Linked DNA regions of Homo sapiens: region 1 is linked to region 2. A link means that fine-mapping ties the variant in region 2 to the expression of a gene that starts in the linked region. Tissue or cell type: cerebellum. Region 2 holds a variant in brackets; the other region holds the start of a gene. All regions are shown on one strand. Distances are between the middles of the regions.

Region 1 (5,489 bases), 22 kb before region 2:
AGCTAAAGCGTTTGGAAAGAAAAGCTTGATCTTTAGCTTTGACCTGGTCTTTAAAAAAACCCTTCAAGGGGAACATCACACACCAGGGCCTGTCGGGGGGGTCGGGGCTGGGGGAGGGATAGCATTAGGAGAAATACCTAATGTAAATGATGTGTTGATGGGTGCAGCAAACCAACATGGCACAGGTATACCTATGTATCAAACCTGCACATTGTGCACATGTACCCTAGAACTTAAAGTATAAAAAAAACCCACAAAAAACCCTTCACATGATTTACTTTCAGAATTGGTGGTTTCCCTTTGTGCGGCGCTGGAATCAATCTTGTTTCTCCTTATTACTTGCGGTGCATTCTGCTTCCTCTAACTTTCAAAAAATTAGTGTTAAACTCTTTTTTTTTTTTTTGAGACAAAATCTCACTCTGTCATCCAGACTGGAGTGCAATGGTGCAATCTCAGCTCACTGCAACCTCCACCTCCAGGGTTCAAGCAATTCTCCTGCCTCAGCCTCCCAAGTAGCTGGGATTACAGGTGCGCACCACCACACCTAATTTTTGTATTTTAGTAGGGGCTGGTCTCGAACCCCTTCCATTGTGATCCACCTGCCTCGGCCTCCCAAAGTGCTGGGATTACAGGCATGCACCACTGAGCCCAGCCTAGTCTTGAACTCTTGATGAGGGAATCCCTGACCCCTCTGTGTTTTCACTTTGGGATTTCTTCCTGTTTATTAAATGAATGACCTTGGTACTTTTTGGAGAAAATGACAAAAAGGAGCATCAAGGCTCCAGATGTATGGGAGCTGCAGAACTGAAACTGCCGTGGGCTTTTGGGGGTAGATTTGGGGTCTTGGGGGTAGATTTGAGTGGGACTGGGGAGGAGTGGGGTGCAATCGAGTCTTTAGACCATGCATGTGACATGGAGGTCCCTGGTGTAGCCTCCCATGTCTGCATTTCTAATTGGCTTGGATGAGGCATCCCAATAGTTACTTCTAAGAATAGTCATGGCTAATATTTATCAAGAGCTTTCTATGTGGCAGGTACTTTGCATGTGTTTTTCCTTTAATTCTGACAATGGACCCTCTGTGGTGGGTGCTTTTATTATCCACATTTTCAGATGAGGAAACTGAAGTATAGAGAGTTGAAACAACTTGGTCGAGGCCCCACTGCTACAGTGCTAAGGCCAGCTACAAAGCGAGGTCTGACTCTGACCGTCCTGGGTACAGGAGCCTTGTCTGCTCCACTTGTCCCTTGGAGCGTTGTTCTTGCTGGTCCTCTTCACACCCCAGCTCTTGTCTCCTACCTCCTGCCCCCTCTACTGTCCTGTCCCCGCATCCCTGATTTCCCCCCTAAAACATATATTTTATTATAGCTACTTTTTACTCTCTGTCTAATGGGTTGCCCCACAGTCCACAATCACATTTTGAGGAAGGAGAACTTCCCAGAGTTCATGAACAGATTTTGGAGTGCCTCTTTGCGGTGCTTGTTTCCAAAACCAACATGCTGTGGACCTTTCAAAGACACAGTACACACAAACACACACACACCCTCCCTCCAACACAAATAAACCCACATGCGGCCGGGCATGGTGGCTCACGCCTGTAATTCCAGCACTTTGGGAGGCCGAGGTGGGCGGATCACCTGAGGTCAGGAGTTCGAGAGCAGCCTGACCAACATGGTGAAACCCCATTTCTACTAAAAATACAAAAAATCAGTGGGGCATGGTGGCGCACGCCTGCAATCCCAGCTACTCGGGAGGCTGAGGCAGGAGAACTGCTTGAACCCGGGAGGCGGAGGCTGCAGTGAGCTGAGATTGCGCCATTGCACTCCAGCTTGGGCAACAAGAGTGAAACTCTGTCTACAAAAAAAAAAAAAAAAAAAAAAAAACAAACCCCACATGCACATAAACCGAAACACACACGAACACACAAACACCCACATGAACATGCGCACAAGCCCCCCACATCAAACTCAGATGCACACAGCAAGCATGCATGTAAGCCACACACTTGCCACTCTGGCTGCCTCAGCACTGCAGAGCCCCTCTCCCCGGCCTCTAGTTGGATCCCTGGTGCACACTGGAGGGAAATAAAACCTACCCCAACAGGAAGTGAAACAGTTGGTGAGCTTTTCCGGTGCTCTGCACAGATGCTGGGGCGCTGAGCAAACAGCCCTCAGTTTCTGGAGCTGTTCCGAGGTAACTGGGGTCCTTTGGGAGCTGTGGGATGATGAGGTTCAGGAGGTAGCTGGGAAGTCCGGAGCTTGGGCTTGATCCACCTGCACCTCTCCCTGTCTCCATCTGAGCTGGGTCTGAGACTCTCAGTGGAGGAGTAACAGGCTTTCTCCCAACAGGCTTTTGAAAATGGGCCCAAGGGCATTTACTCAGGACCACAGATGCATGTGGCCTACTCCACTGTCACCAGGCTGGAGTGTGGTGGCACGATCTCGGCTCTCTGCAACTTCTGCCTCTCGAGTTCAAGCCATTCTTGTGCCTCAGCCTCCCTAATAGCTGTGATTACAGGCACCCACCACCACGCCCGGCTAATTTTTGTATTTTTAGTAGAGACGGGGTTTCACCGTGTTGGCCAGGCTGGTCTTGAACGACTGACGTCAGGTGATCTGCCTGCCTCGGCCTTCCAAAGGGCTGGGATCACAGGCAGAGCCACCACACCCAGCCTCCTTTCTTCTTAGTCTGGAAGCAAACTACTTTATGAAGTTTTCATGCATCCTCTTTTAAAAGTAAAAGGAAAATCTTGTGGAGGAGAGAAGATGAAGTAGATATAGCAATAAATTGTGAATAAGGATTGTTTTTACTAGTATTCAACCAGGCAGGTCTTGACCACCATTAGATAAACTTCTGTCTGGCAGCCTGGAAAAGTTCACAGTTGCTGGGACACAAATGCTTTTGGGGTCCTTCTTGGAGAGGATGGAGTTGAAGATTTGGGAGCTTGATGGCCTTTGTTATGTGTCACCAGGGAGACAGGGACAAGGGGCGGGGCTGTTGATGGAGAATGTGGCATGGGGTAGGTGGGATGGTGACATAGAAGTCACCGTGCTCCTGCCCTAGAGATTTTAGTAGCAGGCAAACACCGTGGTCAAAAAAGAGAGTCAAGGACTTAATGAAGTTAAAGGGGTTCTGCTGACGTCCAGCACTCTGATTTTGGGGGTACAGCTTCTGCCATAACTGCATATTGCTGATACTAGTTCCTTCTTAAAATTTTCTTTGCTATCTGATGTACTACAGAATAACTGAGCTGGGAAGAATCTTGGATATTAAAATGATTTAATGAGTAGCAAACTTTCCATTTTTGTCATATCCTTGCACCTCTATTTACTTAATATTTTTCTTTAACTTAAAAATTTTTCAACAAAAACAATAATAGTTACGATATCATGGGTTTGATGTGCTAATACATGTTTTAAAATTACCTATCTGTCAACATAACCCCTATCCATTTGTGAGCCACCTAAGATTGTATTTATGCCACTGATGATATTCATGCTGCACTTGGAAAACCACTGATCTTGTCCAAGTTACCTTTTTTGTAGGTGAGGACACTGAGATCTGGAGACGTTAGTGATTTGCCCAAGGTTGCACAGTTAGAATGATACTAATTTGAGGCTGTTCCTAAGGTCTCCTAATTTACAGTCTTGACATGTTCCAGTATGCTGTATCATACTTTCAAGTGTAGAGAAACAATCGTTTTATTTTCATTTTAAAAATTTTATTTACGTATTTATTTTTGAGACAGAGTCTTGCTCTGTCACCCAGGCTGGAGTGCAGTGGTGCAATCTAGGCTCACTGAAACCTCCGCCTCCCAGGTTCAAGAACTTCTCATGCCTCAGCCTCATGAATAGCTGGGACTACAGGTTCAATACACCACGCCTGGCTAATTTTTGTATTTTGGTTTTGCTATGTTGCCCAGGCTGGTATCGAACTCCTGGGCACCAGTGATCTGCCCACCTCAGCCTCCCAAAGTGCTGGGATTATAGGCATGAGCCACTGCCCCTTCTTAAATGTAATTCAAATAGATAACCCAGGTAAAGGAGCAGCATAGAGCCTTGTGTGAGGAGATGCTGAATACATTTCCTTCCTTCAGTCCCTGCTCGTTGCCACCCTGAACTGGCTGCTCTCTGCAAGTTTTGATAATCCTTTCTAATGCTAATGCTCTGAAATACCAAGATGCTGTACCTTGGTGTGGCCACAGAATGATTGACTGTGCTGTGCAAGGTACTCAATCTAAAGACTGTCAGTTCTGGGGCAATTTCTTGTATTCCTTATTGGCTTATTTCCTTCACCTGTTTTTTTTTTCTTTTTCCTTCTGAAATGTCTGTTATTTGGGTGTTGGATTTCTTCAACCAATAATCATCTCATTTTCTTTTCTCCTATTTTGCTTTACTTTTAAAAATATTTTCTTTAACTTCATTTTTAATATTGCTAGTAAATTTTTAAACATTCGGCTTTGCTGTTTTTAATTTCTGAAAGTTCTTTCTAATTCTCATTTTTTTAATCACCTCCTGTTCCTGTTTTACACACACAATGTTTTATGTCTTTAAGGATGTTAATTACAGTTCTTTCAGGTTTTTCTTTTATTTCCTGTGTTGCTTTGTTTCCTCTCAGTTCCTTATCTCTGTGTGTTTTGTTTTGGTTTCTTTCTCAGTTTGAAGCATGTCTTATGATCTTGTGCTCTGGTTATATTTGTTATTTATTTATTTATTTTAACTTTAATCCATTTTATTTGAGTCTCTCTCTCTATATATATGTGTGTGTGTGTGTGTGTTTTTTTTTTTTTTGAGGTGGAGTCTTGCTCTGTTGCCGGGCTGGAGTGCAGTGGCACGAACTCGGCTCACTGCAACCTCTGCCCTCTGGGTTCAAGCAAGTTTCCTGCCTCAGCCTCCCAAGTAGCTGGGATTACAGGCACACGCCACATGGCTAGTTTTTGTATTTTTAGTAGAGACAGGGTTTTGCCATGTTGGCCAGGCTGGTCTTGAACTCCTGACCTTGTGATCCACCTGCCTCGGCCTCCCTAAGTGCTGGGATTACAGGCATGAGCCACCATGCCCGGTCTTAGTTACTCTGAAATATACATAATATTATTGCTAAGTATAGTCACCCTAGTCTACTATGAAACATTAGAACTTATTTCTTCTATCTAACTGTAGGTTTTTTTTTTTCCTGGGAGTGGGGCAGATAGGGTTTCACTCTGTCACCCAGGCAGGAGTGCAATGGCACCATCATGGCTCACTGCAGCCTTGACCTCCCAGACTCAAGTGATCCTCCCACCTCAGCCTGCTGAGTAGCTGGGAGTACAGGTGTGTACCACTACACATGGATAATTTTTATTATTATATTTATTTATTTATTTTGAGATGAAGTCTTGCTTCTTCCCCAGGCTGGAGTGCAGTGGTGCGATATCGGCTCACTGCAACCTCCGCCTCTCAGGTTCAAGCGATTCTCCTGCCTCAGCCTCCTGTGTAGTTGGGATTACAGGTGCA
Region 2 (5,249 bases):
CAGACGCGAGCCATGCCCAGCTATTAATTCATCTTATTGATGTCGAAACTAAAGCCTGGAAAGGTCAAAGAGCTTGATGAAGGTCAAATAGGTAGTAAGGGGTGGCTGGACCCAGACCAGGGCTCCTAAGTTCGTCGCTTTCCTCACCGCGCTGGGCTCTCTGAGCGTCCTAATAGCCACGCCCACCTCAAATGGCGATCCCAGAGAGCATCTGGCTTCAATTTTCCTTTTTCCGGAGGGGAGATGGATTCCCTGGAATGGAACTGGGCTCTGGTAGGGGAGAACTTCCTGTTGGGCAAATCCTGACAACTGTCTTGGTGTGGGAGTGCATAGGGAACTCCGACCCTCGCAGAACCCTGGGATCTTCGTGGGTGGAGGGGAAGAGGATAGAGGAGGGGAGGGAGGAGACGCTGAGACAGAGGCTTTCATCTTGAGCCTGGTGGGGAGGCATGTGGGAGAAGTTGCTGAGCGGTTGGATCGGAGGGAGGAAGAGAAGGGCCAGAGCACTGGCTTCCTGTTCCATCTTCCCCCTTGTTCTGCAGGTGGCCATTTTCTCCTTCCAGAGCCGGAGGTGGAGAGACTTGGGGGCCTGCCCAGCTCCAGTCCTCTGTCCTCACTCTGCCCGTCTCCGCCCGTCCCCCAGCCAACCTTTGGAGAAGGTGCTGGGCTGCTAGGATTTGGGATTCTGGTGGAGGGGGAGGGGGAGGGGATGTGCCCATTTGTTCGGGTCTGACCCTGGAACAAAGGCTTTTGCCACGGAGAGTCTAGGTCTTAATGCCCCCCATTAGCCAGAGTTGGGGGGCCACCAACACATTAACAACTAAAAACAGTCTTCACTAGAATCCTTTTGCTGAGCCCCCTCGCCTCCCCCTGCCTGGTCGCAGGCTAATTCCGGCCTGGGCTGCTGTGGACGGACTATCCTGGCCGCTGAGCCTCCCATTGTGTTCCTAATGCTCAGTAACAAAGGCTGCTCGCCGGTAGCAACGGTCGCTAGGCGGGTCTTATCTCCTGGGCTCCGGCCCCTTCCCCCACGGCAGAGTCTGAGGCCCAGACTGGGTCCCCTGAGTCTTTAGCATGGGGCTCTTCCAAGACCCCGGAGGGTTATCCACAGGGGATGGCCCTGCTGGCACTTATGGAGGGGAGAGCTTATGGGAGACACGTCGGTGGCAGAGAACCTGTGACAGTCGTTCCCAGACGTTTTCTAAGACGTTGTCGTTCATACAGTAAGCATTTCTAGTGCTCCCTGTACCCGCGCTCCCCAGCCCCCATGCTTTTGCCTGGATTCTTAGCAGACCTTTCATTCAAAATTCCATTTGGCTCCTTGCTGAATGAAGCGAACCCTGTGTCATGTTGCTGGTGTCGCTTTACGAGAACACGCACCCTCTTAACTGCTCCCTTTTTGACAGGACTCATCCGACTATGCTGTCATTGTGCTATTTACTTGTCTGTCGATTGGAACAGTGGCAGATCTTCAGCCCAGCTGTATATCGCACCCTAGCACCACCTGGGAGATTACAAACACCAAGCTTCTACCCCACAGATTCTGATTTGGTTGCTCTGGGGTGGGACACAGGCATTTTTCCTCTCCTTGAGTGATGCCAATGTGCCGCCAGGGCTGAGATGTCACTCTAGTGACTGTCACCTTTCTACAGGAGGGGGCAGGGGCCTCCTGATGACAGGAGACAACTCAGGGCAAGCAAAATTCTGAAATGTGGTCGGCCTCCAGCCCCACTAATTATGCAGGGGTACTGAGTTTCTCAATTTTTTTGTTTTTTTTTTTTTTGAGACGGAGTTTCGTTCTTGTTGCCCAGACTGGAGTGCAATGGTGCAATCTTGGCTCACCGCAACCTCCGCCTCCCGGGTTCAAGCGATTCTCCTGCCTCAGCCTCCCGAGTAGCTGGGAATACAGGCATGTGCCACCACACCCGGCTAATTTTCTATTTTTAGTAGAGACGGGGTTTCTCCATGTTGGTCAGGCTGGTCTCGAATTCGTGACCTCAGGTGATCCGCCCGCCTTGGCCTCCCAAAGTGCTAGGATTATAGGCGTGAGCCACCGTGCTCAGCCTTCTCAAACTTTTAAAGCCTCAAAATCCTTATCTGTAAAATGAGACCTACCTCATAGTGTAGTTTTGAGGGTTAAATGAGATTATGGCATAAAGCCCCCTGCATATGCCTGGCATGTAGTAGAAGCTCAACACTTCTTAAGTGAATGATACTCTGGTAGTGAAAGCTGAGTGAAACTGCCAGTACTGGCCAGGTGCAGTGGCTCATGCCTGTAGTCCCAGCACTTTGGGAGATGGTGGCAGGTGAATCCCTTGAGCTCAGGAGTTCGAGACCAGCCTAGGCAACATGGCAAAACCCTTGTCTCTACAAAACAGGACAAAACAAAATAATTAGCCAGGTATGGTGGTATGCACCTGTGGTCCCAGTTACTCAAGAGGCTGAGGTGGGAGGATCACCTGAGCCTGGAAATTCAAGGCTGTTCAAGATCATGCCACTGCACTGCAGCCTGGGCC[G/A]CAGAGTGAGACCCTGTCTCAGACAAAAAAAAAAAAGAAAAAAAAGAAAGAAAGAAAAAAAGAAATTGCGAGTCCTTGTTTCTGTTCTGATACAAACCAGTTGTATGACCTTTACAGCACTCTGCTCCCAAATTTCCCCATGAACCAATCTGTCGTCCAGGCTGGAGTGCAGTGGTGCGATCTTGGCTCACTGCAACCTCTGCCTCCTGGGTTCAAGTGATTCTCCTGCCTCAGCCTCCCGAGTAGTTGGGATTACAGGTGCCCATCACCATGCCCGGCTAATTTTTGTATTTTTAGTAGAGACGGGGTTTCGCCATGTTGGCCAGGCTGCTCTTGAACTCCTGACCTCAGGTGATTCGCCTGCCTCGGCCTCCTAAAGTGCTGGGATTACAGGCATAAGCCACCATGCCAGGCCTCAGAGATCTTCTTTTAAGCAGAGTTGTCATTTGTTAATATTTTTTAAAGGTTATTTCTTTGGTCTCCCTTCTATTCTGCTGGCATGACTCCACCTACCACTCCGCCAACAACTGTCTATTTGCCCTTGCTGCCTGGGCCTTAGTACTTTTAAAACTCCTGTGGACAGCACTCTCCTTGAATTAATATTTATTTATGGAGCTCCTGCTCTGGTGCCATAGGAGAGGAGGTGGGGAGAGTAAAACTGCAAGGACTCTACCCTGGAGGAGCCTCCAATCTAGCTGGGGGGTGTGGGCAGGAGACTCAGTAATGACAGGGTGGTCAAGGTCAGGACAGAACCCTATTCTTCCCTGCTGTGAACCAGCTGGATGAGTCCAAGACAACTGCAGGTAACAATTGTGGGTTGGGTTAACACAGTGGTTCTCCAACTTTCTGGTCCCAGAACCTCTTTATATTCTTAAAAATTTTTGTTAATTTCAAACGCCTTTTATTTATGTGGATTATATCTATTGATATATCCTGTATTAGATGTTAAAATTAAGAAATTTTCCTTTTTTTTTTTTTTTTTGGGATGGAGTTTCACTTTTGTTGCCTAGGCTGGAGTACAATGGCACACAATCTTGGCTCACTGCAACCTCCGCTTCCTGGGTTCAAGTGATTCTCCTGCATCAGCCTCCCGAGTAGCTGGGATTACAGCAAATTTTTGTATTTTTAGTAGAGAAGGGGTTTCACCATGTTGGCCAGGCTGGTCAACTGACATCAGGTGATCCACTCGCCTTGGCCCCCCAAAGTGCTGGGATTACAGGTGTGAGCTATTGCACCCAGCCAAAATTAAGAAATTTTCTTGCCGGGCGCAGTGGCTCATGCCTGTAATCCCAGCGCTTTGGGAGGCTGAGGCGAGCAGATCATGAGGTCAGGAGTTCAAGACCAGCCTGACCAGCATGGCGAAACCCCGTCTCTACCAGAAATACAAAAAAATAGCCAGGCGTGGTGGCATGTGCCTGTAATCCCAGCTACTCGGGAGTCGTGCTTGAACCCAGGAGGTGGAGGTTAAAGTGAGCCGAGATCGCACCACTGCACTCCAGCCTGGGTGACAGAGCGAGACTCCGTCTCAAAAAAAAAAAAAAAAAGGAAAGAAATTATTCTAAATACAAACACATAATCCATGATTGGCATTATCGGTCAGAATGATATGACACATGATGCAGCTTCAGGAAAATTCTACTGTACATCCATGAGAGAATAAGAGTGAAACAGACAGTGAACCAAGATTGCACCACCACACTCCAGCCTGGACGACACGGCAAGACTGTTGCAAAATAAAAGTTTAAAAAAATTTTTTTGTTTTGTTTTGTTTTTTTTTGAGACGGAGTCTTGCTCTGTCGCCCAGGCTGGAGTGCAGTGGCGCGATCTCAGCTCACTGCAACCTCCAACTCCCGGGTTCAAGCGATTCTCCTGCCTCAGCCTCCCCAGTAGCTGGGATTACAGGCGCCCACCACCACGCCCGGCTAATTGTTGTATTTTTAGTAGAGATGAGGTTTCACCATGTTGGCCAGGATAGTCTCCAACTCCTGACCTCAGGTGATTTGCCCGAGGTGATCTGCCTCCGCCTCCCAAAGTGCTGGGATTACAGGCATGAGCCATCACACCCGGCCTAAGAATTTGCTATGTGCACAGATAGATGCAGGCCTTCCTTGAAAAGACGTGAAGCACCAAAGAAGTTAGAGTGAGGGCTTATATTCCATTTTAACAACTGGTAATAAATTGTGAAGAAGTGACAAGATGAAGGAAAAGGGGTTTGGGCTTCTAGGGACAGTAAATTGTGGGCAGGCAAACATATGGGGGAAACTAATGGAAGATAAGGGCAATTTTATAAGGCTGGTTTGTGCAGACCCATCTTGGTAACAACTTTCTGTTTCCGGTGGTAAGGGTGATTCTCCTGGTACGGGAGAGGGGAGGGCGACACCTTCACAAAGGGAAATTTAGGCAGATGAGGTGGGCAAAGAGCTCTTTCTTCATTTGCTGCTTCTTAATTGCCTTCAGCTAAAAATATTTCTTCTGCTAAAGTGGCCTATTGGGTGACATATTCTGACCCTCTTCAGTAAATAATAATAATAATAGACAATACTAGATCCTGAATGAACAGTACCTAAGGTTCTTCCTTCTGGCACGCTCTGGCAGCCTTAAAGTTCAGTAGCCCCTGAGCATGGCTGTGCCAGGTCAGGCAGTCAGGGAAACTGCCCGAGCAGAGTGAGTGGCCTGGCCAGGTGCAGGTTGTGGGGGGCTGTGTGACGTGCCAGGCTTCATGGGGGCAGCAGA

The links. PIP is the estimated chance that this variant, and not a neighbour inherited with it, causes the effect.
Region 1: it holds the start of ADA2, and the variant in region 2 is fine-mapped to the expression of ADA2 in cerebellum (GTEx, PIP above 0.99). The same link has a PIP of 0.9 or more in cerebellar hemisphere.

The regions. Positions count from the first base shown.
Region 1 is chr22:17,216,057-17,221,545 of GRCh38, reverse strand. ADA2 (adenosine deaminase 2) reads left to right here and starts at 2,111. Exons shown (of 10, transcript NM_001282225.2): 1 at 2,111-2,190. RefSeq lists enhancers at 2,324-2,453, 2,464-2,533, 2,374-2,734.
Region 2 is chr22:17,194,573-17,199,821 of GRCh38, reverse strand. All of the region lies in intron 4 of ADA2 (adenosine deaminase 2), which reads left to right. LOC107985573 (a long non-coding RNA gene) reads left to right here and starts at 1,033. Exons shown (of 2, transcript XR_001755419.2): 1 at 1,033-1,223; 2 at 1,407-1,761. RefSeq lists enhancers at 1-427, 428-931, 932-1,436, 3,987-4,502. The variant G/A (reference allele first, on the strand shown) is at 2,517.